4 linked regions of the Homo sapiens genome follow. The protein of the gene in region 2 purifies or fractionates together with the protein of the main gene of each other region. This does not show direct contact. Each region holds a gene or a part of one and is shown on either strand. Other genes may lie near its edges. The genes, in order: PPM1H, RAB35, MYEF2 and DTD2.

What was found.
Region 1: the proteins of RAB35 (region 2) and PPM1H purify together in Homo sapiens (co-immunoprecipitation; one study listed by IntAct). This does not show direct contact.
Region 3: the proteins of RAB35 (region 2) and MYEF2 fractionate together in Homo sapiens (co-fractionation; one large-scale study listed by BioGRID). This does not show direct contact.
Region 4: the proteins of RAB35 (region 2) and DTD2 fractionate together in Homo sapiens (co-fractionation; one large-scale study listed by BioGRID). This does not show direct contact.

Annotation. Positions count from the first base shown.
Region 1 is NC_000012.12:62,689,426-62,694,773, reverse strand, and holds part of PPM1H (protein phosphatase 1H), read left to right. Parts: intron 1-774; coding exon 775-838; intron 839-4,967; coding exon 4,968-5,075; intron 5,076-5,348. UniProt on the Homo sapiens protein: Dephosphorylates CDKN1B at 'Thr-187', thus removing a signal for proteasomal degradation.
Region 2 is NC_000012.12:120,098,456-120,103,803, reverse strand, and holds part of RAB35 (ras-related protein Rab-35), read left to right. Parts: intron 1-4,649; coding exon 4,650-4,774; intron 4,775-4,868; coding exon 4,869-4,993; intron 4,994-5,348. UniProt on the Homo sapiens protein: The small GTPases Rab are key regulators of intracellular membrane trafficking, from the formation of transport vesicles to their fusion with membranes.
Region 3 is NC_000015.10:48,167,284-48,172,631, reverse strand, and holds part of MYEF2 (myelin expression factor 2), read left to right. Parts: intron 1-3,792; coding exon 3,793-4,001; intron 4,002-5,230; coding exon 5,231-5,283; intron 5,284-5,348. UniProt on the Homo sapiens protein: Transcriptional repressor of the myelin basic protein gene (MBP). Binds to the proximal MB1 element 5'-TTGTCC-3' of the MBP promoter. Its binding to MB1 and function are inhibited by PURA.
Region 4 is NC_000014.9:31,450,137-31,455,484, reverse strand, and holds part of DTD2 (D-aminoacyl-tRNA deacylase 2), read left to right. Parts: intron 1-2,140; coding exon 2,141-2,210; intron 2,211-2,601; exon of another isoform or gene 2,602-3,378; intron 3,379-5,348. UniProt on the Homo sapiens protein: Deacylates mischarged D-aminoacyl-tRNAs. Also deacylates mischarged glycyl-tRNA(Ala), protecting cells against glycine mischarging by AlaRS. Probably acts by rejecting L-amino acids from its binding site rather than specific recognition of D-amino acids.

The sequences.
Region 1 (5,348 bases), about 57 Mb from region 2:
GAAACTGAGACTGAAAAAGGTGAAGCTACATGCTCAAGGTGATAAACAGCTGTAACTGGGCTAACAGTTGTTTGTTCGCTTGTTTGTTTTTTAACTTGGTTATAAGCAAAATTGCAAGACATGGTCTTCATCAGCTCTGTCCCTTTCATCTTACCCGCCTCCGCTGTGCAGGCTGTGGCACTGGAGAACCCTATCTGGAATAAACCATTGAGGCATAAACTGAAGGTTCTTTCTGTGTATTGAGTGGCTATTTAAAAGCTATTGTGAAACAAAGAATGTTTTACCAACCTTGCATATTATATAGAGGACAAACAGGCTCGAAAGATTTCTTCCCTAGCCATCCCAATACAAGGCTGTTTTGGTATAAACAACCCCTGAAGGTGAGAACTGGCTCTCGAAGCAGTTTCACACTCCATTCATCTCTGAGCTCTGCTGTTTCTCACAGTTTTGGATTCGTGATGAGAATACTGTTGCTGGGTCACTTCATTATTACACAGACCCTAAGGCCAGAAACCCATCTCCCCTTTTTGCTAATTATGCATATGCCAACTTATTTCCTCCCTCTTCAAGCATATAAAGACAGTATTTTCTGGTTTGGTAAAAGACACACACACACAATTCTGTAGGGAGAACAACTCCCTATAAAGGAAGAGGTAGTCAGTGTGGTGAGTGGATGGGGTCTCAGGGAAAATGAAATCCCTAGCAGTCGGTGTCAGGGCAGCAGGTCACTAATTGAGTGCAAACCTTTTTTAAAATGTTGTTTATCCCCTACAGGGCATACAAAACCATTGAGGATGAGGACTTGAAGTTCCCCCTTATATATGGAGAAGGCAAGAAGGTAGGCACGTGTGCTTCCCCTGGGTAGAGAGGACAGGGCTCTGTCCCGCCTTCGCTCCACATAGCCCGTGGCAGTCCGTGTGTTCCACTCAGCAGCTTGTGATTTTATAGCCTTGACAGCTTGAAAGCATATCCCATCCATCATCCTTCAGGCCTCCTGTCTTCAGGGTCCAAGGAGTAGTGGGGGTGGGAGGTGGGCGGTGAGCACAAGGGACTCAAGCCAATTTTGTGAAAATAAAGTCCCCCTTCCCAATCCATTTGAATAACTTTTTACAGTGTTTAAACATGAACCACTTTCACACACATCATCTCATTTATATCTGACAACGAGCAAGGAGGCAGGTCAAGCTGGCTGTGTTATATCCATCTGGCAGACGAGGCAGCTGGGACTGTGAGGTTAAAACAGCTCAGGCAGATCACGCAGCCAAGCGAGGGGCAGCTGCGGATGTGGTGCCTTGGCTTTCTGTCTGCTTCGCGCGTCTCAGACTCCACCATGGAAGTCCAGACTTTGCAAGTCTGTTTGCCACTTGCCCCATGGAAGAGAGTCCAAAGCGTCACTGTAATTAGACTATAAGGTCACAGCAACCAGAGTCCAGACTAAGATAACAAAGACCATCATCAGCTCCCAGGGTTCCAGTCAGAATCCAGCACTGAACAGCACGTTGTCGAACCAAAGAAAAGCTGTGGATCCTAAAGTGGTCTCTGAGCAGAGGCCTGGAGGAGGTTGAAATCCTGGAGTGGAGAGCAAGAAGCTTGGAATCTATTTCCTAGTAAGAACAAACACCTTCTGAATCATTGCATTCTTCCTCGGAACACTAATACATTTCAACTCGGTGTGAAGCATTCCAAGTGAAAAATGTGGTCACATTGAGAAGAGTCTTCAACTGATAATTTTTCCAGCATTCGATACGATAGTTTTTATCAAGAAGAAATGACTCAGAAGAAAACCAAAGGATGCCTTCCATGGGCAGAGTGTGTGTGTGTGTGTGTGTGTGTGTGTGTGTCAGAGCAAAAGCAAGAGAACAAACATGGTTAGGTTTTGGGCTCCGTGTAGACCAGCAGTGATTTCAATGCAAAAAGACATCTCAACAGAAGGAGGAATACCAAACACAAATATCTGATCCATGTAGGAATCATTTTTTAAACGAACATACCCCATTCATGAAAATGAACACCTTTCAGATCACAGTCTCTGGTTAAGAATCGTGTCAGGGCTAATAGGCACTGTTCTGATATAAATATTTGTGCCTTTTGGTACAATGGGCACCATTAATGAGTATCATTCAGCCCAATGACCTATGCCTGCAGCTCCATTTCTTTGTGGGGCTGAGATTCTCTGTATTACCCTTTAATATCCAGTGAGTTCCAGTAAACTCAGGAACACATTCTGTTACCCCTGTATCTCTAGTTCCTGTCTAGCCTGGTACCTGACATAAATGCATAAGTATTAAATAAGCTGTTCAGTTATGTTCAGTATACTTTCCTTAGTACAATAGGAAAATGGAATGATGTATTCTTGGAAGTTTATAGCAGTAAGATTTGAAGGAGCAAGAGTTTTCTAATTTTAGTATAAAGTTCAATTCACCAAAACATCATGTTCCTCAAGCATTTCAGGTAATTTAAGCTTGATGGTCTTGCGATGGGCAGGTGGCAAGTTCTGTCCGTGTACCTGTTGGCCTATTTAAAAGCCACCATGTCTCCATTTTGCTTTTGTTGGTAGATACCACCCCTTTCTGAGGACTCCATGAGTTCTTGGAGCTCCTTCTAGATCCTGGACTGGGATTTTCTCTTTCTTCTCCGCGTACCCCTACGCAGAAATTTCAGAGTACTTCTGTGGCCATTACTTCTCATTTTCTTTCTTCAGATGCTTTTAAAGACTGGTGTGGGTAACACCTGGATACTTCGTAAACAAGGTCAGTCACTAGCAGAAACATCAGATTTCTTTGGCTGGAAAGAGCACACAGAGAAGCCGCCATTTCAGGGAGGAGAGCAGGAGAGCCACAAGGGACTCAGAATTTTTCACATTTAGAGTTGAGCACTTCTTGGCTAGAAGGGAGCCAGTCCAGCCTCCCAGCAGGGCAGAGGGCCCCAGGCTTTGCTTTGCATCACTTTTTTTTTTTTTTTTTGAGACATGGCATCAGGCTGGAGTACGGTGGCACAATCTCGGCTCACTTCAGGCTCGACATCCCAGGATCAGGTGATCCTCCCACTTCAGCCTCCTGAGTAGCTGGGACTACAGGCGCATGCCACCACACTGGCTAATTTTTGTATTTTTTGTAGTCAGGAGGTTTTACCACATTGCCCTGGCTAGTCTCAAACTCCTGGGCTCAAGTGATCCTCCTGCCTTGGCCTCCCAAAGTGCTGGGATTACACATGTGAGCTACTGTGTCTGGCTGTGTCTCGTGTCTTTATCCCCTCTGACCCTTGCCCTCAAAAAGGTGTCATGGTTTCATTTCTGCTTAATGTGAACTCTGCCTACCTTCCGAACCAAGGCTGGCTTCAAAATTCACAGCCCTGTTGACAGTCTAGGATGAAGATGAAGACAATATATTAAATTGCAGTGTTTCTTAGCATTTATTTACTTCATCCCCACTCATAGGAGGTAATTACTCTTATCACCCAGGTAATAGAGTGAGGATTCAAGCTCAGGTCTTTGAACCATTTCACTACACCGGATATATTTTTTATGATTAAGGGTTAGGACACTGCTTTCTTCCACCCAGGATGACTTTCACTCCATCCCTCTGTGTCGCCTGTCTTGATGCAATCCACCTTTCTGTGCTAAGTGCCACCTCCTCCGTGGAGCCTTCTCAGTAGAATTTTTACCTCCTCTAAACTTGCATAACCCATTGTCTATGTGTTTTTCAGTACTTAACCATATTTTATGTGTTATTAATTACACATCTCCCTCTTATCTCCCTTACCAAGTTTCTTTTTGGTTTTTTTATTTGTTTGTTTGTTGGTTTGAGACTGAGTCTCACTGTGTCACCCAGGCTAGACTGCAGTGGCATGATCTCAATTCACTGCAACCTCCACCTTCCAGGTTCAAGTGATTCTCATGCCTCAGCCTCCAAGCAGCTGGGATTACAGGTGCCCACCACCATGCCTAGCTAAATTTTGTATTTTTCGTAGAGATGGGGTTTCACCATGTCAGCCAGGCTGGTCTCAAACTCCTGACCTCAAGTGATCCACCTGCCTCAGCCTCCCAAAGTGCTGGGATTACAGGCAAGAGCCACCGCACGTGGCCCCAAGTTTCTTTGTAGTAGGGACGAGGCCTTAGACATTTGTGTCCCCAACATATGATGTAAGTACATAGTAGGCACCCAATAAATGTTTGGGTAAATCAGATCTTCAGCATAACAGGAGATATTTAAGCTGACTGTGTAGGCATTGGTGTAATAGTGTTACTTCCTTACACCATTCAAAAACAGTTCAGGATGAGGTCTCAGCCCTGAGGCCTCTGTGTAGCTATGTCACAGCACTGGTGACATTTTGTTCCTTTCCACCCAGAGGGAATTTGTGGAGATCTTAGCAGGATAGGTTATAGAGTTGATAAGTTTCTTTTCTCCAGCCATAAAACATAATAGGTGAACTCTGGGAGGGCAAGAGCTATTTCTGATTTTTTACACCTTTTACTAGTACATATCACAGGACTAAGGACATAGCTGGTGTTGAGCAAATACTTGTACAGTGGATATGTAACAGAAAGATTGGTGGGTGTGTGGATGGGTGGGTGGATGGATGGATGGATGGATGGATGGATCGATCAATCCTATTGGGTTTGATATGAACTGATTTCTGCAGCTGTAGACGTCACGCATGCATTGGAGTTAGTTTATTGGACATCCTTCCTTCCAGTCTCCAAAAAAAGAAAGCTGAAAAGAAACAGCAGCAACCTGTCAAGCTTAAGATAATGGATAGAAAAAGCACTCCTCAAATACAGAAGTGATTTTGGTGAGCCCTTTCTTGGTAAGAGCTATCCACGTATGTTAGCAGCAAGGGGCCTGGAAACATATCTGGGCAGGAGGAACTGGAAAATTGTTTGGTTGTTCCTAGCCCAGGCAGCTGCACTGGAATGGGATGCTTTCACTGTGTGCGTGTTTCTGATGACCCTCTGCTTATACTCCTAGGCCCGGGTAATGGCAACTATTGGAGTGACCAGGGGACTTGGGGACCATGACCTGAAGGTGCATGACTCCAACATCTACATTAAACCATTCCTGTCTTCAGCTCCAGAGGTACCGCATGAGGTTTTTGTTTATATTTTGTGCAATAAAACATTTTCGGCGTTATTCCTCCTGTGACTCACACCCCATATCCAGACAGTAGCCAACTTGTATTATATGTACTTCCACTGTATCTCTCACGTCTGTGTCTTTTTCCCACTCCATTCTCACTTTGACTCTTCTGGTTCACACCTTCATCACCTCTTACCCAGATGGCTGCACAGCCTCCTCCTGACATTTTCTAAGTCTGCCAATCCATGCTACTTATTGCAGTCAGGTAAATTT
Region 2 (5,348 bases):
ACCCAACCCGCGCCACTGACCTGTGGACACAGTTGAGCGACCGGTGCCTGGTCATGGTGGAAATGTCACTGGTGGGTCCCTGAGGCTGTCGGGAAGTGAGCCTGTTGTTGGCTGTAGTAGGTGGCGTTTGGCTGCACCCTTCCTGGTCCTGAAGATGTGAGGGGGGTGCTGTGGGGGAGTCGCTGAGCACCCTGGCTGGAGTCTGGCCGGACAGTGGCCATGTTCTATCTCCTTGGAGAGTCAGCCGACCCTCCGGCCCACTGTGCCGTCACCTTACAGAGAGAGCAGAATAGCATTTGCCTCGCTAGGGGGTTGCGAAGTGCCTTGCCCACCCAGGACTTAGTCGCTGACAATTCCTCTTGGTAGGTGTCAGTTATGGCAGCTGGAGTTGGCCTGTGCAGGCTCCCGTCACCTGCACTGATGCCTTGGAAGTGACGCTGTCTAGAGACGAACACGGTGCATGTCAGCAGGCCCTTCCCTACCCTTAAAGCTGTTCCTGGGAAATCCGGCCGCCCACCGGTTGCCCACCTTTGTGGCTGAGCTGCAGGCCGGGGGGAAGCTGGGCTCCTGCGCAGATGGGCAGTGTCCTTCGGAGCGGCTCCTGGTTATTGGGTTGTTAGTGGAGCAGGTTTTAGGAAAGAGCAGGGTCTGAAGGGGCCGATTTGGAGCTGTTGGGCTGTGTGTCCTTAGGCAAGTTGCCGAAGCTCTCTGCGCTCGTTTCCTGGAGGGCCTGCCTCTGGGATTGGCTTCCATGTGGAGGGTGCCAGGTGCTCTGCTGCAGGCGTCAACGTGCGTGCCGGGGTGTGGTGTCTGGCAGCTCTGTGTGCTTGGTGCTGCTGTCATCCCATTTGACAGAGGGCGCCCTGGAGGGGTCCCTCCCAGCGGCCAAGCCTGTGCTCCACACAGTGGCCTGTGCAGAGTGAGGGGCGGCTGTCTGGCTCCACGGGCACCTCCTTGGCTCTCTCGAGCAGCTCCTCTGGAAGTGACCTCAGGAAGGCGAATGAGGAAGTCCCAGCCAGCGGCCCCCTTCCTTCCCACAGCATGAAAGCCCGGCACTCCCCAGGCTGGCTGCCCCTGCCCCCGGGCCCCTCGGCATCTCCCGAGGGTGGGAAGTGTGGGGTGCAGCGCCCCCATGGATGGCTGGGAGTATGGGGGAGAGCAGGGCTGCTGGAGAGGGACAGGTGTGCTGGGCGAGCAGCTCCTGGGGCTGGAGCCAAGGCGGAGGGCTTGTCACTGGGTTCACCCTATGCTGAGCACATTTGTGCTGTGGCCCGTGATGCCCGGAATCCCTGGGAGCTCCCAGTCCCGGGGTCGCCCTGGTGTGGTGCTGTGTGGTGACCGTTGATGAGCCCTGTGAGCGAGGGCTCTGTGGCCTGCATGTCTTGGCAGCTGCCAGTGAGAATCTGCGGAGGACACTGGGGCAGGGCTGGCATCAGTGCTTTGGGCAGCCTGGGGCTGCAGGCCCAGGCGAGGCAAGCCCTCATGCCGTTGGCTGGTCTGGGCGCTGACCTCATGAATCCTTGCTCTGGGTTGGTCCTGTCGCTAGGATTTCAGCTGCTTTATTTTGGTTAATCCCGGTAGAGAGACCTGTGACTATCTCCATTTTATGGACAGGAAAACAGGCCCAGGGAGGATGAAGCCTCCTAACTCAGTGGGGCAGAGGTTGGGGGCACTCAGGGTTGGCCCTGAGTCTGCCGAGGCCCTGCATCGACTGGGCAGGTGGCGCCCCTGCCTTCCTGCCCCGTCCTGTGCCTTAAAACCAGGCGGAGGTTCAGGGTGGCAGAGGTTCAGAGGCCCGTGGCCATGAGGAATGAACTCCTGGGCAGGGCAGTGGGGCCTGGGGGGTCCGAGGCTCTTTCAGCAGGAGGAGCCACAGCCCCTCCCTGCCATCATGCAGTCAGCTGCTTTCTGGGCTGGGCAGAGCGGGAAGAAGGTGAACTGGTTCCTCCATTCCGTGGGGAGGCGGGGAGGAGTCACTCAGCTTCCTGGGAGCAACATGGGTTTTTCCCCAGGGGCTTGGGAAGGGGCGGCCTGTGGGCAGCGGCTGGGCCCCTGCTGCCGTCCCACGTGTCTGGGGAAGCAGACAGGTGGCTCCATCTTAGAGTCCCGCTCTGGCCCTCATGAGGCAGGAGGCCCAGCAGGGCGCCCTGAGGGGCCACTGGAAGTCTCGACGCCCTTTGATGGTCACTGGCAAAGAAGGAAGGAGTTTTGGGGAGGTGAGGAGTTTTCAGGAATAGGGCAGTCAGGATGCAGTAGCGTGACTTTTTTCCGATGCAGGGCGTTCAGAGAGAAACTGAAACTGCATCCTGTTAGCCTGGCGAGAAAAAGCCTTGTGGTCACCCCTTCTCGGGTTCTTGCTCTCAGAAGCTGAGGTTTGCCGGCCCTGAGAGGTGCGGGTGGGATGGAGGTGAGGGGAGAAGTGACAAGGAAGGCAAGGCCCTGGCGTTGGGCCTGGGAGTCAGCCCTGGGCGCCAGGACTTCCAGCTGGCCGCTGCACTCAGCCTCACGTCCTTGCTGGTCACATGGCCATCCTGAGGTCTGCTGGATCAGGTGGCTGCAGACATTAATAAGGTAATGGATACCAAGCCCCCAGCTCTGTGCCTGGCCTAGAGCAGAGTCCCTGTGAGTGAAGGTGATTCCTGGTGGCCATGGGAAACGTCGGTGCTCCGGTTCCTCCTAGCCAGAGCTCTGAGCCCCTGACTTCATCCCCAGACAAATTCTCTGCTCTCAGATAAAGCCCCTTTCCTGGGCCCCGGATGAGGCAGAGGCGCCCAGGGAGCCGCGGGGGCTGTGCGCCGGGGCCATGGCTGCAGGCGTTTCTTGGCATCTCTGATCATCTTCAGCAAAGGAGAGTCTGCAGAGCCATCCGCTCCTTGGGCTTCCTCTGCTGGCAGGGGACAGTCGCCTGTTCCTGTGGCTCCGGCGCGCCCTCGCTCTGGAAGGCGTCTGACACACCATGCCATGTGCTGACCCGGCGCTCTCAGCAGCAGCTGCCAAGGCCAGAGCTAGTTCTTGGGCCCAGTGCCAAGAGAGCTTGATCGTCACAGCTACCCCGAAGCCAAGGAGCGACGCTGCCCTGGAAGCAAAGCTGTGGGCAGAATGAAGCCCTGGGAAGAGATCCCAGCGGTCGTGTTGAGGATGGAGCAAGGATGGGGCAGGGGCGGTGGCAGGGGCAGGTTGGGCTTTGTCCCAGGGCTGGGCAGGAGCTCTGGCTCTGCAGCATCAGGGAAGATGCTCAGGGCTGCCCCTAAGCTGCCTGTTGGTTTCCTTCCACCACCTCTGTCTGGGACCACAGATTGTCCTTGAAGGCACATTGATGATGCTGAAGAACGCATACTGACTGTTTACTGCTCCCCCGCCTTGGGGTAATGCTTAGCTCCTTTCTTCCTCATGACCACCCCAGTTAAGGACTAGCCACCTGTGTGCTATAACTGTTGAAGCTGCAAGGTGTGGCAGGGTGAATGCAGGCACCTTCCCAAGGGCCAGCCTTTCAGAGATGGAGCCAGGGTTGGTCTTTGTCCTTAGATCGGGCCTCAGATGTGAAGCATTGGCCAGAGAGCTGATGGGCAGGTGGACAGGAATGGAGCTGCAGCCACAAGTCAGCCTGGCTGCCCCATTCTTGCTCAGCCTGCGCTGACTTGGGCTGTTCCTGAACTGGGGCTTGGGCTGTCCCCATGAACCTCATGGGGGTGGAGGTAATTAGGGCTGGGGCAGGTGGCAGCCAGAAAGCCGGGAGGAAGCGGCCTGTCCACTCATGGTTTGTCTGTGTGCTGTCCTGAGGAGCCCTGGGGTGGAGGTCCCTGCGGCTTTGGGGAGAGGGGACAGAGGGACAGCTCTGGCTGATTGCACAGTGTGGGGCGGGGCTGCCGCCTGGCCTCCGGCTCTTCGACAGCTCTCGGGGAAGCGGAGGCTGTGGTCCCCCTCCTCCTCCGGGGATTGATGTCGTCCTGTGCCACTGGGATGAATGGGGACATGGGGTCTGGAGAGGAGAGTTGGGCCTCCCCTTCCTTCTGGCCTTCCTGGCTGGCCCTGGGCTCTGCATGTTTGGGGTGATGGCTTTGCTGGGCGCCCTCTCCCCAGCCATCCCTGGATGCTTGTGTGGCTTCCATGCTTTTCCTGCCACCTGCACAGATGAGCCAAGAGTAGCAGGAAGGGAGGTGCCTACCTGCCCCAGGGGAGGGGCACAGACTTTGCCAGGGCGTCATGATGGTGTGGCTTCTTGGAAAGGTTCTCTAAAACAGGTTTGAGGAGCAAATATTTTTTTGAATGTTCAAAGACAGTGATAACATGATGTCAAATACAAAAACTGCCTGATTTCCCAAAATAAAGCAAGAACTTCAAAGATGTTTCAAGCCTGCAGCAGACTCTGAACAGCAGGAGGTGACTCCTCAGACCTGCTCTGCTGCCCAGGGGCTGGCCCTCCCGCCCTGTTGGTGCCCCGGGCGGGCAGGGGGAGTCAGTGCTGCCGCAGTAGCCTCTCCTGCTGGCCTGTTGTGGCTCGGGGGCATCTGCCGAGGCTGAGTGAGAGCCCAGGCTCCAGGGCCACCCTCACCTTTTCCGGGTCAGTGTCCTGACGTGGGCAGGTGGGTCCCGGCAAGGGGGTGACTCCTGTCGGGGTTGACATGCTGCCGCACACTCTGGCCCTGCAGGTATTATCGGGGGACCCACGGGGTCATTGTGGTTTACGACGTCACCAGTGCCGAGTCCTTTGTCAACGTCAAGCGGTGGCTTCACGAAATCAACCAGAACTGTGATGATGTGTGCCGAATATTAGGTGAGGCTGCACTCAGGGCCGGGTCGGGGTTGGGTGGGAGAGAGGCAGCCGGCTGCGCCCCTCAGGGCTGCGCTGACTCTGCCTTCGTTTGAAGTGGGTAATAAGAATGACGACCCTGAGCGGAAGGTGGTGGAGACGGAAGATGCCTACAAATTCGCCGGGCAGATGGGCATCCAGTTGTTCGAGACCAGCGCCAAGGAGAATGTCAACGTGGAAGAGGTGAGGCCCTGGGCCACTGTGGCTCTGCCACACACCCGTGGCCGCCTTCTCCATGCTGCTGGCCTGCTTGAGGCATCTAAATGACCAACAGAAAATGTCATAGTAACTGCCATTTATTGAGTGCCTACTATGTGCCAGGCCCTTTAACGATCTTAGTTCATAGTTCAACAGTCCTCTGAGGTAGGTACAATTATACCCACATTTCAAATAGGGAAACTGAGGCTCCAAGTGTTGAAGTAACTCAAGGACCACCACCTGGCTAGTAAGAGACTGAGTAAACCTCTGTCCCACACCAAAGCCAAGCACAGTTTCCACTCCAGTCCTCTGCCTCATTGGCCGCCTTGTGCTGTGTGGA
Region 3 (5,348 bases), on a different chromosome or scaffold from region 2:
ATTGTTTTTCCCCCTTAATCTAGTTTGATCTTTGTCAGTTTTGCTTATCTTTCAAAAACCAACTTTTAATTTTATTGATCTTTTCTATTGTTTTTCTAGTATATTTCATTTATTTTTGCCCTGATTTTCATTATTTTCTTCTTTCTACTAAGTTTGGACTGAGCTCTTTTTTCTAGTTCCTTGAGGTGTAAAGTTAGGTTGTTGGAGATCTTTATTCTTTTTTTTTTTTTTGATACAGAGTCTTGCTCTGTATCAAAAAAAAAATGTGCAATGGTGTGATCTTGGCTCACTGCAACCTCTGCCTCCTGGGTTCAGGTGAATCTCCTGCCTCAGCCTCCCAAGCAGCTGGGATTACAGGCATGCATCACTACGTCTGGCTAATTTTTGTATTTTTAGTAGAGACGGGGTTTCACCATGTTGGCCAGGTTCATCTCGAACTCCTGACCTCAAGTCACCCACCTGCCTTGGCCTCCCAAAGTGCCGGGATTACAGATGTGAGCCACTGCACCTGGCCTGGAGGTCGTTTTTCTTAATGTAGACATTTACTGCTCTGAACTGCCCTCTGGTAGTTTTCCTCTGGAACTGGGATTAATATTGGATCTCATACTACACCATTATACTTTTAAAATCACACATTAAAACTATGTTTCTTCTTTTGATGTTGGAGCTTGATTTTTTTCAGAAATGTATGTTATAATTTAGATACGCATAGTTCAATTTTAAGAATAGATAACATTTTTATGACTATTTTAGGGTTTTTATTTTAAGTACATTGTGGGAGTGGTTGTCTAAATGAACAGTTTGGGAATTTAGTACTTGGAATTCTGGATGTAGTACCAATATTTTGGAATTATGTAGCATCATTTCCTTAAGAGTTTTCACATATATTTTTACTTTCTCTTCCAAAGTATTTATGACTTGGAAATAGTTCAGAAATTATATAATTATGGCTCAGTTTCTTAATAATTAGATCATCCCTGTAGCCTCTCAACTGTTATGCCTTTTATAGTTTTTTTTCTTTTTTTGTTATACACTGGGAAGAAACTTAAGATAAATTTTAATTCTACATCATAGATGAGCAGTTTAGCAGTATTTTTAAGATGCTTCTTATGGGGGAAAAATGAAGAAATTTACTTTCTCTGATCATCTTTGAGTAAATATTTTAAAGAAAATATTATATATAATGTTACTGTTTTTAATGGAATTTTCAGATTGTTGTAAGCAAATATTTAATCTATGTAACCCCACCTAAGTCAAGAATAGAACATTGTAAGTACTTCAGAACTTTGTGTAATTTTCACAATTGGTTTAATCCAGGAAGAAAATAGGCAGGGGAAGGGGTATTAATCTAGAGACTATATAGATATCTGCTTACTGAATAGAGTCTTAGTTACTTTACAAACATTCACTGAATTCATCTAAGCCTATTATGTAAACAGGCCCTTTGGGAATTGAAAAGAAAGGTTTGTTCTTCTATCTGCGGTACTCAGAAACCAGAGAAAAGGCCTTTGTGCCTTTTGGCTGCTTGCTGCCATTTTCAAAAGTGTCACTCTGTTTAGACAGGTAGGTACTTTCTAGATTTAGACAGTTGAGAAGACTCCCCCCTAGGCCATGCCATTTCTGATGAAGGAATATGTTTGATAGTGAAGATGTCCTTTTTAAGGTCTAAAAAAAATGGCAAAGCAAGTTTGGTCCAAATGTCTCTTTCTTTATTCTAGCAGTTTTTCTGGCAACATCTGTGCTCAGATGAGTATGGATTCTTAATTGACTGTTAATTCATTAAAAAATTATAGCACAATGTTATATGCAGTCACCGTGCGAGGTGCTGCTGATACCAAAGCAGATAGTTTTTGTTCTCATAGAGTTTACATACTATATTTATGGCTGTGTTACCTACAAAGAAGAGTAGTGTTCAAGAAGCTCTGTATATATTATGTAACAAATGACTGCAGTTAGAGGTGTGTGGAGCATTGCAATGTGTGGATCACCAGAATTGCTGGGCTTAGAAGATAATTTAGAGCCTGGCTCATGAAACTTGGTTTGTTGTCAGAATAATCCAGAAAGCTTTAAAAAAAATTTAGATTCCTGGGTGTCATCCACAGTGATATTATTAGTAATGTTTGTGAAAAATTGCTTTAAAATTGAAGTTTTGTTATTAAAATAGTTTTAAATTGACTAGAGCACTTATTTAAATAAGAAATCTATTGGCCGGGCACGGTGGCTCACACCTGTAATCCCAGCACTTTGGGAGGCCGAGGCGGGTGGATCACCAGAGGTCAGGAGTTTGAGACCAGCCTGGCCAACATGGTGAAACCCTGTCTCTACTAAAAATACAAAAATTAGCTGGGTGTAGTGGCAGACACCTGTAATTCCAGCTACTTGGGAGGCTGAGGAAGGAGAATTCCTTGAACCCAGGAGGCGGAGATTGCAGTGAGCCGAGATCTTGCCACTGTACTCCAGCCTGGGTGACAGAATGAGACTGTATCTCAAACAACAACAACAACAACAACAGCAACAAAAACCCCCACAAAAAACCCTATTGTTTGTGCTGTAAAAAAGACTTGTTTTGAAAAGTAAATTGCATTTTAAAATAGAAATCCAAATTTTTATCTGTAGGGTTTAAGTGTATGCCTACATCTTTTGGATGGTTGGCATATGACATCATAGAGTTGCATTGTGATTACGGTATTATAAATTACTTTTTTTTCTAGTTAAGGCCTCATTAAAAATCAGGTTTGGCCAGGCGTGGTGGCTCACGCCTGTAATCCCAGCACTTTGGGAGGCGAGGTGAGTGGATCACGAGGTCAGGAGTTCAAGATCAGCCTGGCCAAGATGATGAAACCCCGTCTCTACTAAAAATACAAAAAATTAGCTGGGCATGGTGGTGGGCACCTGTAATCCCAGCTGCTCAGGAGGCTAAGGCAGAGAATTGCTTGGACCTGGGAGGCGGAGGTTGCAGTGAGTCGAGATTGCACCACTGCACTCCAGCCTGGGTGACAGAGCAAAACTCCGTCTCAAAAAAAAAAAAAAAATCAGGTTTATAAAATTTTGGCTTACGTTGCTTTTATGTACTGCTTCTGTCCTACATTACCCATTGTAGGTAATATTAATGAAACTGCATAATTTGATGAAGTACCCTATTCTAGTTTATAGGTTAAAATGTAACATAAAATATTAGGATACTTTATAAGTTTTCTGTGTTGATCAAAATTGGGAATAGAAGAAAGTTTGAGAGTCTTAATGTGAGTATATTCATATATAGATGTGGATTTATATACATAACTTTGTATTTTAATTATGCTTCTAATTAAGGGAGGAGAAAGTTCTGAGAAGAAACTATTAACCTTTAAGAGATGAACTTTTTCAGAGTATCACTGTGTAAGTTAGTTTTTAAAAAAGTTTTTAATGATGCCCAGAAAGTTAATTCTCCATCAAAGGTGGCAGTTTTAGATACCTTAGAAGTAAAATTATCTGCTCTTCCCTCTGTTCCAGTCTAATAGCATTTATTAATTAAGTAGTGTGATGGGAAAAACTGGGTGATTGTTTGGATGCTTACAACTATTTAATGTGGGAAAAAAATGAGGACTGTTAAATGAGAAACCAAATCCTTGCTTTGAAATAGCATTGGGTAATTTCAAAGCTCTCAGGCTGATTCTCCAGCTACTTTGCTGAGGTCTAGCTTAGTGGAGAGTTTTGTGAGGTGATAAATATGGAATACTTATTTAATATAGACTTCCATTCTTATAAGCACAACTGAGGGTTTTTGTTTGTTTGACTTTTTTTAATTCACAGGGAGAATGATGAATCAGCAAAAGAAGAGAAATCTGACTTAAAGGAAAAATCTACAGGAAGTAAGAAGGCCAATAGATTTCATCCTTATTCAAAAGACAAGAATTCGGGCGCTGGAGAAAAGAAGGGTCCAAATCGTAACAGAGTTTTCATTAGCAACATCCCATATGACATGAAATGGCAAGCTATTAAAGATCTAATGAGAGAGAAAGGTAACTATCTCTGAAATAACCCACTGTTGGATAATCTTCATATAGGCAGGGGAGGGAACTACACAAACATTTTTATTCCTCTGAGCCACACAGACTCAAAAAATTGATTTTTATTTCTTGACATGTGAATTAATCTTTTCCTCTTCTTTCTCTTGACACAATTTCATTACAAGGTAGTATGGATATTTTTCTTTTTGCCATTTTAGTGGGATAGTAGCGAGCCAGCATATGCATGCCACCAAGAATTTTGTTAAAGTGATTGCTTTGTCTAGTTGAAGTTTTTATAGATTTTAAAAGGGCTATTGCATTAGTTAAGCAATACATTTAGCGTGTTAAGAATGAATAATAAGGTCTGATTATTTATTTTTTTTCCAAAAGCTGTTTTGTTACTATCTTGGTGGAGTCTGGAATCTGGCTGTGGAATTTATTTTGTTTGCATTGTCATGACTGCCATGATGCTGTCTTTGCAGTTCTAAATTAAAATTGCATTACTGCTGTTGCAGTTTTGTTTTCAGAATAATCTGAAAACCTTCATCTTATATACATGGTTGGTTTTGGGGAAAAATAATTTTAATACTTGATCTTGTAAAAGTTAGTTTTGTTATCTCTTGAAAAATTGAGTTTCAACAGTCCTGCAAACTATGTACTTGGCTTTGAGGCTGATCTCTTCTAATAAATTTTTTTTTTTAAATTGCATTGGTGTATCTGTTGTAAGGTGACAACTATTTGATTGGTTTTATTCATTGACTTTATTTAGAAAGTGTGTGGCTTGCTGTGAAGCATGATTTGTAAATTTAGTTTACTGATGGCAAACATGATTGAAGACATTCAGGTAGAAAGTCACCTTAAAACAGCTGTTGTGTGTAGGCTGACCAAAGTTATTTGAAAAGTGCTAATGTTGATGTTTTTTAATATGATAGGTTAAGGGACCATTTGTATGTATATGTGCATTTGTTCACCAACTATATCATGCTGGCCAAAATATGATCTGTAGTATGAATTAGGTTAATATGGTTGTTAGCTTTTTTTTAGAGAATGTGGATGATGTACATTTCTGAAAATTAGTTAAATTTACATAGCCATTGATAGGAGGTATGTTGGTCTGGTTTTGATTGTTGGTGAATAATAGGTGCTTCTCTGTAGAGTTGTGCACAGGTGTGCAGTAAAGCAAGATACTGGTGTTTAAATGTATTGTTTCTTGGTATCTTCCTTTTGTATGTCTTATGTAGTTGGTGAGGTTACATACGTGGAGCTCTTTAAGGATGCGGAAGGAAAATCAAGGGTAAGTGCTGTGGGCAATAATCTGCTTGAGGTTTAAAAGTTCCTCAGCAGTTTACTTTTTGTATA
Region 4 (5,348 bases), on a different chromosome or scaffold from region 2:
CCGCCTCCCGGGTTCACGCCATTCTCCTGCCTCAGCCTCCCAAGCAGCTGGGACCACAGGCGCCCACCACCACGCCTGGCTAATTTGTTGTATTTTTACTAGAGACGGAGTTTCACCGTGCTAGCCAGGATGGTCTCGATCTCCTGACCTTGTGGTCCGCCCACCTCGGCCTCCCAAAGTGCTGGTATTGCAGGCTTGAGCCACCGTGCCCGGCCGAATTATCCATTTTTATAGTTGCATCCAGACACTATAATTGCAAACTATCAGTCATTTAGTTTCCTTCCATGCTTATTTATCTTTTTTATGTTGTTCAGGCTACATCTCCTTATGCAAAATCACATGTATTTTATTGCTGGCATCCAAACTATCAGTTTGTGTTTATAAACTTAAAAACTATTTTAAAGGCTTTCCCTTTCACTCCTACACACATAACTAAATTAGTTTAAAGAGCTGACAAGTAATTTAGATGGTGAGAAAATGTAAATTCTTTCTTCTTACATATTCTCTACCCTGTTCTATTATTAAAAGTTCTTGTTTTTTTAGAAACAGCATTTTAATTGTCAAGATTTGAAGGTTACTTTCTTTGCTTGTTCTTAGTTTCATTCATTTAGAACTTTGCTGTCACAGACTAATGTTTTTGTTCCTGGTAAGTGAACTTTTTAAAGCTACAGTGAGAATTATCTGTATTTTTCTATATATTTGAAATGTTTTATACCAAAGAAGTTATAAGGAAAGTGATTTTTGACTTGAAGTCACAGCTTAACATCTATTATGGAATAAATGAAAGGCAAAGACCTTAATGAGGAGATAATGTTAGTGGAAAGAACAGGTATCGTTCTGCAAATGATTAGGTATTTATTTCTGACATTGCATGTGTCCAAATATAAATATGCTTAAGATTTCGATTCATGATGAAAACAATACTAGTGGAGAGGCCTGTGACAGTAGTGCAAATACCTATAATAACTTGCCAGCTTCTCGTGGGTATGCATTGGAGGCCCTTGCCTATTGTTTCAGTAGCACGATTGTACTTTTTAAAACTCACTTCTTTTCCAGGTAAATCACGTGTGAGTGCAGAGCTGCATTTACATTTATCTAGAAAATTCTTTGGATAACGCATAGAGCCTGGAACATATAGTTGAATGTTAATGCAATCAACAGATAAACTGAATCCCTATCGTGTACAAAACAGCCTGTAAAGTGCTTTGGAAGTTAAAATGTGAAATAAATTGTGCCTCTGCCCTTAAATTTATTTTTACATACTCATTTAATAAACACTAATATAGCACTTACTATGAACCAGGCACTGTGTTTAAGTACTTTACAAATGTTAACTCATTTAATCTTCCTAATAGCTCCTGGAGTCAAGATTAATTTACAGAATCAAAAAAATCTAATGATTCACTCAGAAGCAGAATCAAAGTCACTATTCAAATGTCTCTTTTCTGTATAGTCTCTGTCCTACAAGATCTAAGAAATATCCAAGCCATTATGTAAAATAAATAAGCCTATATTCCTGATAACAACCAACCTTTTAATGTAGAATTTACTATCACAAATGCAGTTTTCAAGTCCTAATCATGTTTATATAAAGCATTAACAACAATAACAACAACAACAACAAATAATTGGACAGTTTCCTGGAGCTTATAGAAATAGAATCAGACCCTTATTTTCATTATTTGTAAGTAAATGGATTAGGGGAAATAAAGAGAGATGATGTCAAAAGATATCAGTCACATGTTGTTTATCCATCAGCTGTATCTGGTATAATGTGAATTCACTTGGCATTGAATAAATGGGGCCCAGCAAACGAAATGTTTCTAAGTCTGTCACCCTTACTTGAGAAAAGGCTGGTTGATCCTCTTAATGATTTTGATTAGAAATAAATGTTTGAAGGTATAACTTGTCTTCACTGCTCTTGGGTATATTTTAAACTTAAATTTGAAAGAAATAACTGAGATGATTGAAAATTGAAAAATATTTTGTTTTCTCACATGAGAAATCTTTTGTAAAGTTCATTTTCTGTGCTTTTAACCTCTATGTCTATAATATTAATAGTTGTGAAACTGTACCCATTTAGCCCTGTATCTTTACAGATATTGTTGTAATCTGAGTTTACTGTGGTGATTTCTCATAGGTCCAAAGAGGACTGGTGATCTACGTGTGCTTTTTCAAGGGAGCTGATAAAGAACTTCTTCCCAAAATGGGTATGTGTTTGACTTTGTTTCTTTTTTAAGAGTGAGAGGCCAAGCATGGTGCTCACACCTGTAATCCCAACACGTTGGGAGGCCAAGGCAAGTGGATTACTTGAACCCAGGAGTTAGAAGCCAGCCTGGGCAACATAGTAAGACCTCTTCTCTACAAAAAATAAACAAAAGTAGCTGGGTACGGTGACCTGTGCCTATGGTCCTAGCTACTTAGGAGGCTGAGGCTGGAAGATTACTTGAGGCCAGGAGGTCGAGGCTGCAGTGAGCCGAGATGGTGCCACTGCACTCCAGCCTGGGCAACAGAGTGAGACCCTGTCTCAAAAAAAAAAAAAAAAAGAGAGTGAGAAAGAATAGTAATAGACAAATGAACCCGAAGGGACAAAAAGCACAATCTCTTTCCTCCCCTTTTATTTTTAAAATAATAAATAATAATTTTACATATTCATGGGATACATAGTGATATTTTAATACTGTATACAATGTATAACAATCAAACCAGATATGCATTATCTCAAAAATTTATTATTTGTGTTGTGAACATTTAAAATCCTTTCTTCTAGACTTTTGACAGTATACAATAAATTATAGTTAGCCATATTCATCCTACAGTGCTCCAGAACACCAGAACTCATTCCTCCTATCTAGCTATAATTTTGTATCCATTAACCAATCCCTGCCCATCCTAAGAAGCACAATGTTAAATTGTGCTGTTAAATTATTAATTACTTAATTCTATCTAGTGTTATTGGCCTTAGCTATTTGCCTGTTTCAAAGTTTAAAGTAAGCAAGTATGGTGGAATTTTTTTAAAACATCTGCAGCATTTCAGTGACTTACAGATTGATGTAGAAGAGTGTACACACATACACATACACACAGTGCACTTCAGCCAAGGATACAGAAACTTCTTGGAAGTAGGGTGGTCACACAGGGAGAAACAGATGCTGCATTTCTTAATATAGTTTCCTTTATCCCCTAGAGCCCCTAACAGAGGCAGTAGATGACACTGTATATACAAGATGTGGGTCTCATCAAACCTGGACAACTCAAGTTTATATCATTATTATGGAAGAATTTGCATTAGCCATGTGTGCACTTCCTTGTGGAAATAAGAATAGATGTAAGGTTCTCCTGGGTCTTGAGCTGAATTCAGTGTCATCACAGCCACACCTCCTCCAAGGACATGGAAAACAGAGTCAATGTTAGGGATCTCTGAATAGTAATTTACCTACCTGCAGCTTTCTGGTTTCCTGGACGGGCTATAGCACTGTATAGTGATATGTATATATACACTATCTCACATAGCTATAGCAATTCATGTGATAATTACATAGGTTCAGATATACCAAATCAAATCATACCCTCTCAGGACAGTATTTGGATATAAAGATTATATCCACAAACAAACATACATACAAACTTGAAAGAAAAGCTATCCTTAAGGTTGGGAACAGGTTGTATTCTCCTCATTAGTAAAGGACAGCATCCATTAATAAGTTGGATTAATAAGAAATATTAATTATACAAATGGGCAGTTGAAGCTTACAGAAAACCTAGAAGAGCTTCAAGGGCAAATAGGCCAATGAGGAAGAGCTTAGACAAAAAGCTAAAACTCCTAGAGGGAATTTTATACTGACATATCAAACATGTCTGACAACTTTGTCAAAAGATGAAAACCAGACTTAAGAGACTATGCTAGGTGAGAATGGAAAGCCAGTAACTGCAATAGTTTGAAATTTGAATCCAGAAGATAATAAGGAACCTCTGATGGGTTAAGAGCATAATGTTCTGGTCTGAAGAAGAAAGAAAAAAAAAGAGAGAGAGAGAGAGGCCAGGCGCGGTGGCTCACGCCTGTAATCCCAGCACTTTGAGAGGCCTAGGTGGGCAGATCACGAGGTCAGGAGATCAAGACCATCCTGGCTAACATGGTGAAACCCCGTCTCTACTAAAAATACAAAAAAATTAGCCGGGTGTGGTGGTGGGCGCCTGTAGTCCCAGCTACTCGGGAGGCTGAGGCAGGAGAATGGCATGAGCCCAGGAGGTGGAGTTTGCAGTGAGCCGAGATCACGCCACTGCACTCCAGCCTGGGCGACAGAGGGAGACTCCATCTCAAAAAAAAAAAAAAAAAAGAACATAATGTAATGAGGACTCCTATTACAGAGAATAATTGTCAGATCCTAATGCTGGAGTGTTACACATTCTGTCCACTTTCCTAAATTAATATTTTGCCTTGGATTAAATCTTTTTTGGTCCATAAAAAATGTAGAAATCTTCAAAAACAGGAAGAAAGTATTTGTCATTCTGACTTAAGATTGACTTCATAAAGTTGTCTTATGAATTCTCAAATGGTTCTTCATCATAATAGGATGAAATATGCCTATCATATCCAAACCACATGTTATTTTATAGTGATTAAATCCTGTGTGCTTCCATATCTGTCTTTGTGAGTTCACTTTAAATACATGCATAAGATTGTAGTGAATTTAAAACACTGAGGAGGTCCACCCTGACTCTTGTGGATGGTCTGACACTATCTAACACATGATTTTTTATATCATGATTTTCAGTAAAGAAATATATGACTCTAAGAATCATATTCTACTCGTTTGAGTTGTAAGCAAAGTAAGTCCATCTATTATTAATAGTATTAGCTTGTACTTCCCTCTATTCCAGCAGGCTAAGTAAGTCAATGTGGTGGGATTCTCTTAAGCCTCACCTCATATTTATTACATAGATTCAGATATTTCCAATCAAAGCATATATCACTTGAGAATATAATAACCAGTTAAATCTGCAAAATCTGAAATAGCATGGTTAACATAGAGATGTGTAGAATCTTCCTCAATTCACCTTCAGTATAATTGGACAGAGAGGGCAAGAAACCTGTCAAAGCTTAACATCTCCTATACATCATTAGAGATACTTGATTGATAACCTGTTTTAGGATATTTGAGTTTCCAGCATGCCATTAATTCATTGTCTCGTTTTAATTCTACTTACTGTTTCTACATTGTATTTATCTACATACTGATATTTGTATGCCAACAGCATTAACTGAAATCTCAATTATAGCCAGTAGAGGGAGGTATGTGGAAACATAATAAATTGTAGCATTACCTCTCAGGCCTGTTATTCCAAAA